Regions from separate parts of the Homo sapiens genome. Here region 2 is linked to region 1. The links come from fine-mapping of genetic effects on gene expression. Tissue or cell type: putamen. Region 1 holds a variant in brackets; the other region holds the start of a gene. All regions are shown on one strand. Distances are from middle to middle.

Evidence for each region. PIP is the estimated chance that this variant, and not a neighbour inherited with it, causes the effect.
Region 2: it holds the start of TARID, and the variant in region 1 is fine-mapped to the expression of TARID in putamen (GTEx, PIP above 0.99). The same link has a PIP of 0.9 or more in nucleus accumbens.

The regions. Positions count from the first base shown.
Region 1 is chr6:133,532,749-133,540,858 of GRCh38, forward strand. TARID (TCF21 antisense RNA inducing promoter demethylation) reads right to left here. Exons shown (of 9, transcript NR_109982.1): 6 at 3,032-4,610. Among named protein-coding and RNA genes, the nearest start is that of EYA4-AS2, 80 kb to the left of the region's middle. The variant T/C (reference allele first, on the strand shown) is at 4,524.
Region 2 is chr6:133,885,106-133,893,215 of GRCh38, forward strand. It overlaps TARID (TCF21 antisense RNA inducing promoter demethylation), which reads right to left and starts at 3,901. Exons shown (of 9, transcript NR_109982.1): 1 at 3,499-3,901. TCF21 (transcription factor 21) reads left to right here and starts at 4,008. Exons shown (of 2, transcript NM_003206.4): 1 at 4,008-4,742; 2 at 6,608-7,152. The coding sequence starts at 4,293. The coding sequence ends at 6,697. RefSeq lists enhancers at 3,556-4,469, 5,721-6,485, 7,371-7,979.

The sequences.
Region 1 (8,110 bases):
AATAAATTTAATATGTAAACTTCTTTTGTTTTCTCTTATATCCAGTTGCCATTGAAATTGAATTTATGAGAAAGACTAAATTATACATATCGTATTCCAGCTCCCCACTGAACTCCAAACAAATGTATCTTGTTTGCCTATTTATATACCTGCTTGGAAGAAACGACCTCTCAAATCAACATGTCCAAATCTGAGCTTGTGCTTCTGCGCCGGCCTCTTCTCACCTCTCCCACGACTACCACCCCAGCTGAAACCAGCATCCTTTCTCACATAGATAAGTACATCAGCCTCTAGCTTAGTCTCCCTTCTCTGGCCCTCACACCCTTTCACCATCTCATCACACTAGCCAGAAACATACCGTGCATCAGAGGATATCTCTCTCCTCTTCTTGGAAACCACCAGCTCGCTTGGCACAAACACCAGTGACCTTTGCAATGGCCTGTAAGCCCACAGGCAGCATCCCTGGTGAGCTCTCCCTTCCTCTGTCTCACAACTCACTGCCAAACTGGCACCTCCGTGTTTGGCACATACCTGCACCCACCCACCTGCTGCAGGCCTTTTGCACTCACCATTCCTTCCACTTGAAAAGGTTTTCACCCAGATCTTTGCATCACCTATGCCCTGGGTTTCTTCAGTTCTTAAAGAACACCTTTTTGCTGTAAAGGTCCTCCTCTCTGAAATTGCACCTGCTTCCCAACACCTCTAGCATTTTCCTTCTTTACTAAGAAAAAATACTTAGTTCTTAGATTAATCCAGCATGATACACATTTATTTTTTGTGTTGTTGATTCATCCATTACAATGTATAAACTTCAGGAAAACACTTGCATGAGCATGATCTAGAATTGAAGAGATTTAAAGTGGTAGAGGACCATGTGTGATGGCTCATTCCTATAATCCCAGCACTTTGGGAGGCCGGTGGGAGGATCACTTGAGTTCAGGAGTTCAGGACCAGCCTGGGCAACATAGAGAGACCCTGTCTCTCTCTCTGTCTCTCTTTTTCTAATAGCCAGATGTGATAGTGCGTGCCTGTAGTCCCAGCTACTCATGGTGCCAAGACGGGAAGATCGCATGAGCCTGGGAGGTGGAGGCTGCAGCGAGCTGTGATCACGCCACTGCACTCTAGCCTGGAAGACAGAGCAAGACTCTGTCTCAAAAAAAAAAAGAAAAGAAAAGAAATGATCGAGCTAGATTTGAAAGGGAAAAGGAGAGAAGAAAACATACACAGGACCTGTGTAAGTTTTTATACCTTAGCTGGAGTATTTGCTGGCCTAATTTATGGAAATAAAGAACAAGGATGGCCATAAGCAAAGATGTAATTGAAGAAAGGTTGTATGTGACCTGAGAATGATCGTCTGGATAAAAAACGTTTACAATGAATCAGCGATTGCCTCCTTTATACTCCCTTTTTCCCTTTCATAAAAGAAAAAGTATGCAATATTAGTAGGCTTAATTGACTTACATTACTTAAAGCCACACACAAACAAACATGTAAAAATCAGATCTCTCTGCAAACTGTGGTTCATGATTCTGAGTCCCTGAAACAAACAACAACAAAAAAAATTTTAAGTGTCGGATGTTGTTTAGTTACCAAAAGAGAACCATTTATTTTTTGATCCAGGGTCTTGCTTTGTTGCCCAGGCTGAAGTGCAGTGGCACCATCATAGCTCACTGTAACCTCGAACTCCTGGACTCAAGCAATCCTCCTGCCTCAGACTCCGAAAGTGCTGAGATTACAGGTGTGAGCCACTGCACCCAGACTAATAACCATTATTTAACATCTCTGCATGGTTTTGTATATTCTTTAAAAGTTATTGGATGTAATTCTGGCAAAGTATGCATGTGTGCTAATACACAGGTCGCTACACAAAGCAGTCTACATTTGACTGTGCCAGAGTCAATTCTTGAGATATACTGCAATCAACAAAGATGCCCTCTCAGAGCCTCAAGGGGAAAATGTTCATTGTGCCCAAGTTCTGACTTTCAATGGAAATAGTAGCCATTATTCCTTAGCTTTTCCTTCATCCACAGAACCTTCCAGGTCTGTGTTAGCACACAGTTTGAAAGATCTCCAAATGTAATATGCTAAAGGATCTCTGACAATGCATATAACTCCATATAAGCCAGATGACTATTTTCCCTCCCAACAAAATGCCTTTTGATTGCAGCTTGCAGGGACAGTGTCTCTATGGCTAAAGGGCAATGCATTGTCCTTTGTGGTCATGAAATCTTAGATTTGTGTGCCTTATGTCTGCTATGATGCTGCCATTTTAGTTTTCTGGTGAGCCTTCAGTGAAAATACATAGAATTGAAAGAGGGTGTACTGGAAAAGGTAGAGGGACCACCAAGTAAATCATCCTCCACAGAACCACAGCAGAGTACTGCTGACCCTAAACTCATCACAGTCCTGACCCTTAAGGTTCTTATGCTTTTCAATCGGGGTGACTCTTAAGATAACGAATGAAGGGTGTTAGCAGGGGATAAGCACAGGGGCATGGTGAGTCACTTGCAGAGAAACCTAACCAGCCCTTAAAGGGAAGATTCTTGGAGAAAATGAGTCCAAAGCTGAAGCCCCAAGGACAAAACCGAGAAGGCCAGAGCATTTGCAGGACTGGATTGGAAGCATATAAGCAAAGTGGAAAATATGTAAGAGAATGCAGGTAAGAGGGAGAAGGGTAGAATGGTGTAGTCAGGGAACTGCAAGTAATTCTTGTTTCTGAAGCATGGAGTGAATAAAAGGAATAGTAAGAAATGAGACTGAAAAAAAAACAAGGGCCACTTGGTGAGGATTTTTAATACAGCATCAACCAATTTCAGTTTTACTCGGGTATCAGTAGGTACTGAATGAAAGGTTTGTTAACAGAGGATTTATGTGTCCCAGTTTATATCTTATAATAGTTACTCTGGCCAGGCTGAGGAGAGTGAGGGATCTAAGAGGCTGGTGCAGGATCCTGGAGAGATTCCTGAATTAGGTGATGGGCATGAATATGAGACAGTGCATAGATTCAAAGAAATTAGGGTATTAAGAATACCTTAGTACTTCGCAGTGGTTGCTTCTTCACCTCATGTCCTCAGGAAAATCCAGCCTGACCTCTAGGTTTCTGGCTCGGGCAGTTTGGTAGATTGTAGTGCAGTTTGCCGAGATGAGAAACACAAAAGAAGTAAAAAGATTCTACTTGCTGTTTTTATTGTAGTGGGTGATGCTTGTTGTTGGAACGAGATACTGAGACCAGTTTCTGGAATTGTTAATTTGAAGGTGGTGGTATCCTCAAATGGAGTTGTCCAATGCAAAGTTGAATTTGTAGTAACTTCACTATTGTCTGTTAAATACCTTGCCAAGTCATAACTGAATTACTCGGAGCACAGTAAATAAAACCCTAAGTAATTTGATTATGTCACATCAGTTAATGATTTAAAATCACTTACAATTTGTGCAAACTTGAGACAGCATAGTGGAAAAGCTAGGAATGATGACAGTAATACAGTGTGTGCATGGCTGATGAACACCATGGAAAATTATTTGGGGTCACCAGTTGATTTAACATCATGCTTTCCCATCTCCTGCATTACCCCAATTTCCAGTAGATAAAGTAGTAACATACCTGGATTTACAACCCTGAAGAAATCCAAATGCCTCTATGAGCTTTTCATCAGTAACTTTTGTACAAAAAAGTCATCGCCAGCTTATGTCTGCTTGGAAACCAATATGGCATTCTAATTTATTTCCCAAAGAAAACATTAAAGAGCTTCACAGCAGAATGACAGATGATTTAATCACCTATTTTTAGACAGATTAATGTATTCCAAAAAAATGTGGTGATCATTAAAACATACATTTATGGTGGAATAAACTATTTCATAAGAGCGGGCAGTAATATCTGGTACGTGAATAGGAAATAAAGTTAATGCCAAACACACACGTATAAAACCATCCTGTTTGGCTCATGAAATTATTTCTACATCAGTTATGAGAACAGCAGGAGGGTGGGATGGAGCCACTGATGAGGGCAGTGAAGAAAAAGTGGTATAACATCATCTTTTAAACTTTCATCTACAGTTTTACAAATGATGAGTGCATCTTCTAAATTTTCATCACCCACTGATTTTCTGAATAAAACCTACTACCACAAACTGGCCACTTTTGGCAACACATATTGTTGCCATGCATGACTCAAGAATTCGTTTTAAAGAAGAGAAAAGGGAATGTTTTTCTTATTTCTGTCTAGGCAGAATGGGGATATTTATCCATGTTCCTTCTTCTTATCCTTGAAGGCCCTGTAATTGTTTTATTCATCCAACCACAGCACCATCTTCTGGGCACAGAAGCTGGTACCACTGTAGCAAGATGGGGAATGGGAGCATGTAGGATGTGATGCTTTGATTCAGTCACTCGCTCTGTAGCCAGCTTTTCAGCGAGCATACTGAAAAGAGGAAGGAAACTAACGTTTGAAGAGACTAATCAAACTAACATTTGAAGAGGCTAATCAACTAATGAAGAGACTAATCAATGCTTACCTTACCATA[T/C]ATTACCTGATTTAATTATAACACCCACGAGAGTCAGTGTTCTTAGTCCAATTGTATAGTTGAAGTGACCTCCCAAGATTATACAACCTGTAGGTAGCACAGACAGAATTGGAACTTAGTCCATTAGGTGGAAATTATCTGGACTGCAAAATAGGCTCATTGCACCATATCTTCTGTCCATTGACTTCAGTTGAGTTGTTTAGCACTTGAAGGGGTATGATCTGAGGGAAAGTGCCATCAAGAGCAGGTGAGATTGCAAGCAATGGAGTTAACTGTCACTGTTTTTTCTCTCTGTGAATATAATTGCCATCCAAGTAACTCCTGTGTTGCCTATGTGAGAAATGGCCTTTATGTAGTAGGAATGTTAGTTCTGCAGATAAGCAGTAAAAGGACCCTAAGCTGATTATTTGACTTGATGATTGGAATTATATCCAGTCCTATATGAAGGCCCAAGAGATAACTATTCAATTAAAGCTGCTCAATTAATTTGCATTTAAGTTAAGATACATTTTGCAGATTCCTCCCTTTTAAAACACCTTTAAGCATGCATATCAACTGCTCTTAATACAACAGACTTACAGGCTCCCTAACCTACAGCATGGTTCCAAGAAGGGTACTGGACAGGCTTCTGATTAGAGTGGGGAATTAGGAAGGTTCTGGGGCCACCTAATATAGGAAAAATAAACCATGATGGAGCATTGAGTCAGCATGATTTATGATTTTAGGAGTATCTGAATGGAAGATGTTCAGAAGCAAGTTCCTAAAGGGTAAGTGGAGAAAAGCTATGTAGCCAAGTTTACCTCTTTTCTGAAATTCTATAGTGGAGATGATTTTTTTTTTTTTTTTTTTTTTGAGACGGAGTCTTGTTCTGTCACCAAACTGGAGTGCAGTGGCGCAATCTCAGCTCGCTGCAACCTCCGCCTAGTGGAGATGATTTTTTTTTTTATTATTGTGGTAAAATACAGATAAAGGTAACGATCTTAACCATTTTTAAGTGTACAGTCAATGGCATTAAGTACATCCACATTGTTGTGCTGCTGTCACCACCATCCATCCACAAAACTCTTTTCATCTTCTAAAACTAAAACTCTACCCATTGAACAATAACTTCCCATTCTCCTCTCCCCTTAGTACCTTGTAGCAACTCCTCCACTTTCTGTCTCTACGAATTTGACTACTTGAAGTACCTCATATAAACAGAATCATATAGTATTTGTCCTTTTGTGACTGGCTGATTTCATTTAACAAAATTTCTTTCAGGTTCTCCTGTTTTGTAGCCTATGTTAGAATTTTCTTCCTTTTTAAGGCTGACTAATAATATGTGTGTATACTATATTTTGTTTCTCTATTTTTCCATTGATGGGCATTTAGGTTGCCTCTACCTTTTGGCTCTTGCAAATAATGATGCTATGAACATGGGTATACAAATAACTGGGTCCCTGCTTTAAGTTCTTTTGGATATGTACCCAGAAGTGGAATTGCTGGATCTTGTGTAATTCTATGTTTAATTTTTTGAGGAACTACCATACTTGCCATACTTTCTATGGCAGCCACACCACTTTACATTTCTAACAATAGTGTGCAAAAATTCCTTTTCTTCACATCTTCACCAACACTTGTTATTTTCTGTTTGTTTTTTATAGTAACCATGCTAATGGGTGTGAGGTGATATCTTATTGTGGTTTTAATTTGCATTTACCTAATGATTATGGCATATTGGCCATTTGTATATCTTTGGAGAAATGTCAATTCAATCATTTGCCCATGTTTTAATTGGGTTGTTTTTGTTGTTGTTGTTGAATTGTATATTCTGGATATTAACTCCTCATCAGATACAAGATTTGCAGACATTTTCTCCCATTCCTTGGGTTACCATTTCCATAGTAAACTTGACTTTTGTGTGTATACAAAGCATCCCTCTTTTTAGGGAACACCATACTCCTGGGCATATGGCTGAACCCTAGCCAATCAACATATTCCACCCTCTTTGTCATATTTATTTGCCCAAGAATGGGCTCAGGACCCAAGCTAAGCCTATGAAAACTCACCCCAAGACTTTTCTCCAAAGTCATTATGAAAGATGCACTGTCTTTCTGGGATTAGGATCTCTGGTGACTATGTCAGCCTAAAATGCCAGAACCATCTTTCCTACCACATTGAGAGAGAATCTGAATATGAAGCCAACATGTGGGAAACAGCTCAGAACCCATGCCCTGTTGATGCTGTCAGAGAATTTGGTTTTAGGATGTCAGGAGACAGAACTTCAACTCAGTGACCATGCCTGGAATTTCTAGTTTTGTAAGCCCAAAACTTTTTTATTCTTTTTTCCTTGAACTTGATTGACTTTAGTTTCTGTCATCTGTGGTCAAGAGAGTATGCATGAATGTCCAGTTGGAAATGTTAATTCTTGGAACCAGCAGCTCAAAGCATGCCCTCTAGTCAGTGCTTAGGATTGATTAGAATAAAAGATGTTAAAGAAGAAAGGATGTTGGAGTCGATTACTCAAATTATAAAAAGTGAGTTTGGGACTCCTGACTGTGTTATTCCCTAGGTCTTCTGCTCTTTCCAGCTATATAGTGGCCAAGACATGTGAGACTAGGAAGAGATGGATAGTTATTTATAAGGAAAGGGGCTTCAAATGTCTCACAATAGTTTAACATTGTTACTTTAAAATATTTTCCCCTCTAAACTGTGGTGCTTTGGATGAATCCTGGCACCTCACTCTGTGTCACCCTGCGATTTGGCCACACCTCTTAAGAACACAGATATCCAGGACTAGAATTGCAGTGCTCCATCTGTTTCTTGCATTCCAGCGCCATCCCATAACCACATCAAATTATCTGTGAAATGCAATTTAGAACTCACTTAGTGAATAGGATGCCACATCCTATGACCACTCCTTAATTTTTCTTCTTTGGAAAAATGTGTGACCTATAACCCTGACCTATGACAGTTCCACCCATAGGCAAGCAATGTGTTAAATAGAAAGGGCACTGCTGAATCACGTTAAGCCTCCAACATTCTGCTTAACAGGACTAGCGTAGTAGTTAGGAGTGTATAGGTGTTCCTTTTCTCCCATTTCTAATGTAACTCCAATACACCCATACTGGCACGCATACTGAGAGCTTATTTACCATGCTTTTTGATCAACTATAACTTTTTTTTAAATAACTAAATGATAAATTCTAAAAATAAGAGTTTCTATTGCAACAACAGACAAGACCTTAGTGCTAGAAAGCACATCATCATGTCAATGGAACAACAAATCATGAGCTTGACAGTAATGAAGCTGTTGCTGAGACATTTGTCTGTCTTTTTACAGGGCAATAATTCAAGTTTGAAGGCACGTATTTATTTAACGTTATGTCTAGGAATAAGTTGCCTTCCTAGCCTGAAATTTCTTTCTTTACCCAATGACAAAATTGTACATAATTAATGAGTGCATTCATTGTGTTTTGTTTTTTTAAAAAAATGGTCTAGCAAAATTTCCTTCTGAACATTTAGTTTAATCATGTTTATTAACTACAAACCGTGAGGTACTTGCCAACTCTGACCATAAAATGTTCTATTCTGAGGCTGTCTCTCTG
Region 2 (8,110 bases), 350 kb after region 1:
GAAATGCAAGATTAACTCCTGGATTCAAAGAACCATGCAGAATCTTTCCCTAGACTTTATTGTTGTTATTTGCCACCTTTAAATCTTAGCAATGTGGCATCTTATCTACAATTCACTGAATTAAATGTGAAAAGAGGGGGTTAAGGTATAGTGAACACGCAGAAGACTTCTAATTACTGAATGGATTTATACCATCCAGGATTTATACCATCTCCCAGCTGGTGCCAGGTAAAGGTAGCAGCAATACCCAGCATCACTGTTATTGACCTTCTTAGCTAGCCACCAAGCTCACTAGTGCCATATTCACTTTGGCTGCCAAAATATAACAGGACAGCACCACTATAATTTAGAATGAGCAAAGAGAGGTAATGCTCACTTTATTAAATAAAGTTAAAATTTAATGAAACAAAGTCAGAGTTTGATAGGCATATAAGCGGGAGATAGACAACAGTCAATCAGCAGCAAACAAAGTATATGGAGATAATTATGTAAAATCAAAAAAGAGGCACCTGGCTGGGCACGGTGGCTCATGCCTGTAATCCCAGCACTTTGGGAGTCTGAAGTGGGTAGATCAGGAGTTTGAAACCAGCCTGGCCAAAATGGTGAAACCCCACCTCTACTAAAAATACAAAAATTAGATAGGCATGGTGGCAGGCACCTGTAATTCTAGCTACTCGGGAGGCTGAGGCATGAGAATCTCTTGAACCTGGGAGGCGGAGGTTGCAGTTAGCCTAGATCGTGCTGATGCACTCCAGCTTGGGTGACAGAGCAAGACTCCATCAAAAAAAGAAAAAAAAAAGGCGTCAACTTTTTTTTGCATAGAAAGTTGGCAAATATTTGAAGTGGTGGTAGTTACCATCAAATAAAATGAATAAAACATCTGGAGGTGCTAATTAGAAATGAAGAAAAAAGAGAATGGGCAGTTTTGCCAATTTGCCAGCCTGTGTCTCCTGACCAAATGATGAGGAGTAAGAGAAAAGGATTAACATTTAAATTTAAAGGCATATTTTTCCCCTGAGAAAGATTATGTAATGGCATATGAAGTCAGTTCAAAGGAAGCCTATGATGTTTTCCTTCTCATAAAAAAGGAAGCAAATTATTCCATCCAAGTGCAACTGAATCAAATTTGAACTTCCTGTAAATGTATCAGCTGATAAACCAGGATTTAAGTTCAAGGGTACATTCCATGCCTAATCTTCATTTTACAGCTTTCAGAGATAAAATTTCCTTAGCACTAAAATCTTTCAAAGATAGTCTCTCTTGCAAAACAAATTGTTAGAAGTGAGCAGCAAATTGGCCAGATGCCTCTGGGGCATAAATGTTTCTTAAAAGTCAGGTAAGAACTTTTAGAAATGATCTCATACTTTCAAATCACGAGTTTTCTATTTCGTGCTTTGGAACAGAAATGGTCAACTTACCAAAAGGGTTAATACAGCTTCTCAAAAGTGCTTGTCTTCTCACAGAATATAGTTTATATTTTGGGAGAATTTGGCACAGCTTAAGTTACAGCTTAAATGACTTGCTCAGTAGAATCCAACAAGAAGTCATTTCTCCCACCCATTTGTCCCTAAGTGTTTATTAGCAGGGATAGACACAAAATTTTAAAAGAAAAAAAGTATTTTTCATATGAATATTCTCTCTCCAAGACTTCATATCAAGATACATAAGCAACAGTATTCTTCGACTCTTACTCCCAAACTGGAAGCCATCTTTTACAGAATTTTAGAAACACTCCAAAATTTATTATCAGCCCACTAGCCTTTCTCAGCCCAAATGTCTTACTGCAAGATAAATGGACATGGGACTTAATTATTTCTTATATGGCTATGAAGAAAAATAATTGCTAAGCATAAAAACCAGCCTATGACATGAGGCTAGTTTTACATGCTTCCAGAAATTGGTACTTTTAAGTTTCCAACATTGAAAAATATACAGACAACAGAAATCTTTTCAGTGGTACATATTACTATGATTTTTACTATCTCCCCAGACAGCCTGAGCAGTCCATTAACTAAGGTGTAACAGAGACCCAGAGCCAAAAAGAAAAAAAAATGGCTCCAACAAGAAAAATCACAGCTTAATGTATGCAGTAAGGCCATAGTTTGGATTTATAATAATTATCACATTCCAGAGCCCAAATTAATTATTTGTAGTTATTTTGCAGATATCTTAGTAGCTACACACACACACACACACACACACACACATTTCACAAAGTATTGGCCAATGCCCATTTTCACATAGCTCTTTAGTCTAAAAATAACTTTAACTTTCATGTTTTACCAAGACTGAGAAAAGGGAGAGCAAATCAAAGGAAACTAGTTGAGGAATTAGTGAAGAAATTTTTAACAGGCCTGCTGGGTGTTCTCTCACTGCTGTCTTGAACCTCAGATTAAATTATTATACTTTCTGTGTTGTAGTACTGGGTCATTCGTATGTGAAGACAAAGGCAACTTCAACTTGATATTTCTGTCATCCCTGCTGTGGGAAGAGTCCTTTTCCTGGTTTATAACATCAATCATTCTCACAATAAATCTTAGGGTGGATGTGGTCATTTAAATCTCCACCTGCACAAACAACAGAAAATAAGAGAGCTCATAAATCTCTACACTGGTGATTAACAAATTTTGGATCCTCAGCGAAGATATTATGGAAGAGGGGTCGCTAATTCATTAATAAAGACTGATTTGCTGACAACCTGTTTAGTTTACAGCATAGGGGGAAAGCAAACAAGACCCTGCTAGCAAAACAAAACGTTAGAGGTTAGTGAATTCCCAGCTGAGCCTAGGATTAGAGATATGATATCTTAATGTAGGAGAAGCCTTCAGACCCTAAGCCAACCACTCAGAAACCACTCTTACATTTTGCTCCAGCCCCTCAACTTCAATGCCTACCTGCAAGGGAAGAAAACCTGGCAAAGAAATTGTAAGAGAGATTTATGCCTTCAGTCTCCCTGGTTTCATTGCACCAATTTCATCCAATCCCTAGGTTCTGTTTCCCTGTGCTTTTTCTACCTACTTCCCAGGAGACTTTCTTATTCTCTAGGAAAGGTGGTTCGAGCTGGGGTTAAAGATGGAAAAGAACCTTTCTCAAAAGGATAGTCTTGCTTTGTGTTGTGTAATGTCAGCTTCATGTGAGGAACACTGGCACCTAACAGGCTGGAAGAAGACAAAGACAGCAGCATTGAAAGGGACGGTGCATCACAAAAAGTGCCAGGCAAGGTGATGTCTGAGAGCAACAAAGACTCTCAAGGCAATATTAAATGCATTTCTAGAAAAGAAAAAAAAACCGAGGGGAAAGTTTCCATTTATTAGGAAAAGATGATCAACTAACATAATGTTTTCCACACACTCATACTGCCCTCTCATTCCCTACCCACTCCCACTAAGCTGTGTGTGGTTGGGTTTGAGTGTGCAAATCAAGTATGTTTGTGTACACGTAGGCAGTCCTTTGATGTCTTGAAAATGACCAGGTGTAGGTGAAATGTTTTATACTTACTTTTCCATCACCATAAAGATTCTAGGAAGCACTTGTCTTCATTTATCCCGGGGAAGGTGGAAGATCTCGGTAAAGCCTTGGAGTCTTATGAGGTGTTGGCAGGATGCGGTTGATACTCCCTGTATTTTAATTCGTGTTTTCTTGGGAGGAGAGAGGGCATGGAGTGTAGGTGGAAGGCCCAGAAAGAGCCAAACGATCTAGTCGTTTTTCTAAAGTTCTCAGTAACAACCAGTTGTGACGTCTTAAGAGAGAAAGAAGGCCTTTTACAGATGGACAGAACATGCTGCTTCTCGGCCCCGGCCACAGTTGGGAGAAGGTGGCTGGTAAGTACATGATGCAGTTGAGTTGATTTACATTACAAGTTGCAAATCAGGGTCTGTGCATTGAGTTTCCCTCCGGTTGTGAAAGGGGTCTAAGCGCTTTGCTGGGGCCTGGCAGGCCCCTCCCTGGGCTGCAAGGATCCGCCCCTCTATTCCCCAGATAAATTCCTAGTGTCCACCAAATTCCTCAGCGCTCGCTCACCCTCCTCTACGGCCACGACTCTGGGAGTGGGGAAACAGAGAGCCGGTTCCTCTGCTGCAGAAGTCCTCGGGGTTCCTTCTCACAACTCTGCGAAGGGGAAAGGGTTGTGAGACCCAACCAGACCCCAACTCCAGCTCCCAGCAGGAGGTGGCTGCGCCACACTCGGGAGGCCTCTTGGTTTCAGGGTCTCTCTGTCTCTCTCTCACCCTCTTCCTCGCTTTCTCTGTCTCTCTGTCTCTCTCTCTCTCTCTCCCTCGTCCACTCCCCCAAACATGTCCACCGGCTCCCTCAGCGATGTGGAGGACCTTCAAGAGGTGGAGATGTTGGAATGTGACGGGTTGAAAATGGATTCGAACAAGGAATTTGTGACTTCCAACGAGAGCACCGAGGAGAGCTCCAACTGCGAGAATGGGTCTCCCCAGAAGGGCCGCGGCGGCCTGGGCAAGAGGAGGAAGGCGCCCACCAAGAAGAGCCCCCTGAGCGGGGTCAGCCAGGAGGGGAAGCAGGTCCAGCGCAACGCCGCCAACGCGCGAGAGCGGGCCCGCATGCGAGTGCTGAGCAAGGCCTTCTCCAGACTCAAGACCACCCTGCCCTGGGTGCCCCCCGACACCAAGCTCTCCAAGCTGGACACGCTCAGGCTGGCGTCCAGCTACATCGCCCACTTGAGGCAGATCCTGGCTAACGACAAATACGAGAACGGGTACATTCACCCGGTCAACCTGGTGAGTGCTCCCGGGGCTGCAGCTGCAGTCCAGGCGCGCCCGCACTCCCGCCTGCGGTGGGCGCGAGTGCGCGCGGGGCTGGGAGTGGGGGTGTGGGCGCGGCGGTGACTTACACATCTCGACCACCGCGGGCCTAGAGCCTCCAGGGACCGGAGGCGGGCGGTCTAGACACGGCCCTCGCTCTCTGCCCTACCAGCCCCCGGAGCGGGAGTGATTTATGCGAGGGTTTGACGTGGCAGCCCAATTAAAAGTTTGCAAGTGTGTTGAGCTGGCACAGAGGAGGGATCCCCCGCTCCCGCTCCATCGCCATCCTCCCTGGGGTGCAGTGGCTGCTGCGGAACTGAGAACACTGACAAGACGCTGCGAGCGGACAGGCATTTTGTTAATCCTTTTTTCTTCTTTTAGCAGAGAGTGGAACTTGATTTTCCTTTCCTTGTAAATAAAAACACCCAACTCCGTTTCTTTCACAAGCATATTTAGGACCATTGGATAAGGACACATCTATGCCCCCCAAATTGTCCACGTAAGCCCTTAACCGCTTAAATATTCTGTGCTTCTCCTATAAGTGGATTAATATTTTTAAATCCCAGAAGTTCTAGTAATGATCAGCAAAATCAGTAAATCCTCACTAGTATGAGTGTAATAAATACTAAAATAGGTCACTCTCACCCAAGATTTAAGAAATGTTACCTTTTATCTTAAAAAGTAATGCCCATTGAGCCTAATTTTTTAACACAAAAAACTGATAATCATTGAGTCTACTTTTTTCTCAAATGTATTTTACTGTTTAAGAAATATATCTTAATTTTTTTCATTTGATTTTATTTTAAAACTTCTAAGATCTAAAGAAAAACAATAACAACAACTTACTAGGATCTCTGTTTGTATATGATAAGAATGAGAGATTTTTCCTTTTAAAAGGCAAGTCTTATCAGCTAGCACTAGAGCAGTAGTGAGAGGGGTCTGAATTGTCTTCTCACCGAATTGGTTTCTGGAATTGCTGGAGAAGAAGATGCAAACCCACATTTTACCATGAAAAATGTTTTCTCTCCAATTGAAAGTTTGGGGTTTTTCCCCCCCAATGAGTAAATAGCTTTTTAAAATCTCCACCTAAAATGAAAGTGTTGCCTCGAATATTTACAACTGCTACTCTCTTCATCTTTGAATAAGAAACTTAAATGAGCTTTATTATAAAACAGCCCGGAGAAAGGAAGAGAAAGCATACTTTCTCAGTCCAGCATGAAGACGATCTTAAATTAAAAGTCAATGTAGTATAGCATTTTTTTTTCCTTAAGAGGTGGTGATTAATCTAGAAGCTGTAGTCAAAGCCGGTGTTTGCGATGGAAGAAACGAAAGTCGGACTAGGGAAATAGATGGTGATGAAAGGCGATGAAAGCGACAGGGCCCTGAAACCCGACCACCGCCTCAGAAGGAGGCCAGGAGGGCGCTTCGCCCCGAACTCGGTGCCCAGTAGGCACAAGGTCGTTCTGGGCTTCCCGGCTCAGACTGCCAAAGCGTCTGCCTCCAGGCAGTGCCACAGCACCACCCACTCTCCCACTCTCGGCTTGCCCGGGGCTTCCTGCATTGAGTCTCACAAGGAACCCAGTATAAGCCCTTTTGGCTCTCATTCTAAAAGACCACCACCAGCACCACCACCACCTCGAGCTGTGACTTGGCGCCAAAGCAGCTATTTGCTTTATGCAGCCGCAGGGTGCGCTAGGACCGGGAGTAAATTGCAGAGATAACCGGTCTCTCCAGAGCACCGCCTGCCCCCACCGCCCCCCTTCCTTTCATCTCAGGCCCCGAGTCCACCCCACCCCCTCCGCCACGGCCACTTACCTCCTCCACCCTCTTCTTTCCCGCAGACGTGGCCCTTTATGGTGGCCGGGAAACCCGAGAGTGACCTGAAAGAAGTGGTGACCGCGAGCCGCTTATGTGGAACCACCGCGTCCTGACCTTGGAGGTGCGAGTCTGGGAAAGGCGCGCTCCCGGGGGGAGCGGGCCCCGGGAAGGCGACCCCTGCCCTCAGTGCTCTCTGTCTCTGCTTCCCCCTCGCAATGCTCCTCTCTCTGTCCCACCCCGCGAGAACACTTTACAACGACGAGGAGATTCGTTTCCAAACCAGAGGAGATCAATTGTACTTACAAAGATTCCCATCTATTTAACTTTATTAACTTCTACCGTGAATGACTCTGCAAGCCTTGCTGGTCCAAGTGCAATATGTAATTATAAATATATAAATAGATAAGAGCCTATCAATGTATCTTTTGTACAATATGTTGTAAAATGTAGATCATAGGATAGCTGACTTTGACAGTCACATTTATAAAGTAATTCACTTAAAGATATATATTTTTTTCAAACAAGTTTTGCTACTTTTGAAAATAAATCTTTCTTTATATTGCTAAAAGCTCTGATATTTGGAGTGATTTTTAAAAATATTTGGAATAAGAAAGTGGGAAACTATGGGGAAGCTTGATAATGAAAATGGTTCTTTTAAACCTCAATCTAAACTTCTAGAGATAGAAGAAAATTGCATATGAGTTTCATAATGAAGATGCAGATTATGTTTTATACTGAAACCTTAAAAAAGAAATATATCGGTTACTTTTAAGGCTAATAGAAATTATATAACTGAAAACAAAGAATGGGCAGTATTAAAGTTATCCACAGTTATACAGTTCAAGAGTAAAACGCACCAGAAAAAGGAAATCCAATTTTCATGGATTCCACCGTATGACTGCTGACACGGGCGAGAAAGTAAACTCCACCTTTTGTCACCTTCCAGGTGTGAGCATAGCTGCAAACTAGTGAAGAAATAATAGAAGCTATGAAAGATGTAAATTCCATAACCCTTAGGGTGTGTTTCAGGATTTTCAAAGCTCTGCAGCATACATTATCTACATTTCTTATTAATAGTCCATTAATTAATTCTAACAATAAACCCGCATGCCTGCCTTTTGGTTGCTGTTAGCGGGTGCGTTTAGCTCCCGCCACGACTTCCGGCGGACTGGGTTTAATTTAAACATTTTCCAGGCTACGGAACAGCTCCTAAGGGAAGATTAAGTTGAGATAAACAGAGAAGCAAGGCCGAGGAGCCTGCGACCCGGCTCCCTCACTGCCCCAGCGCAGCCCGCGGCGGCCGATGCGCCAGATGCCACCGGGGCTGTTTAATGTTCGGGGTTATGACCGCAGTGTTTACAAGACGTCTTCGGTTATTTATACTGTTATTCCTCGCAGAGAGCCTTGAAACTTCCGCTTCATTTGCTCTTTCTTTTCGATTTTTTACCCTTTTTTCTCGGCTTAGTTTGGTACCTGGAGCGAGAGCTTCTCCGCCCTTCCACCAACCCCACAGGCCGCTTCGCGGG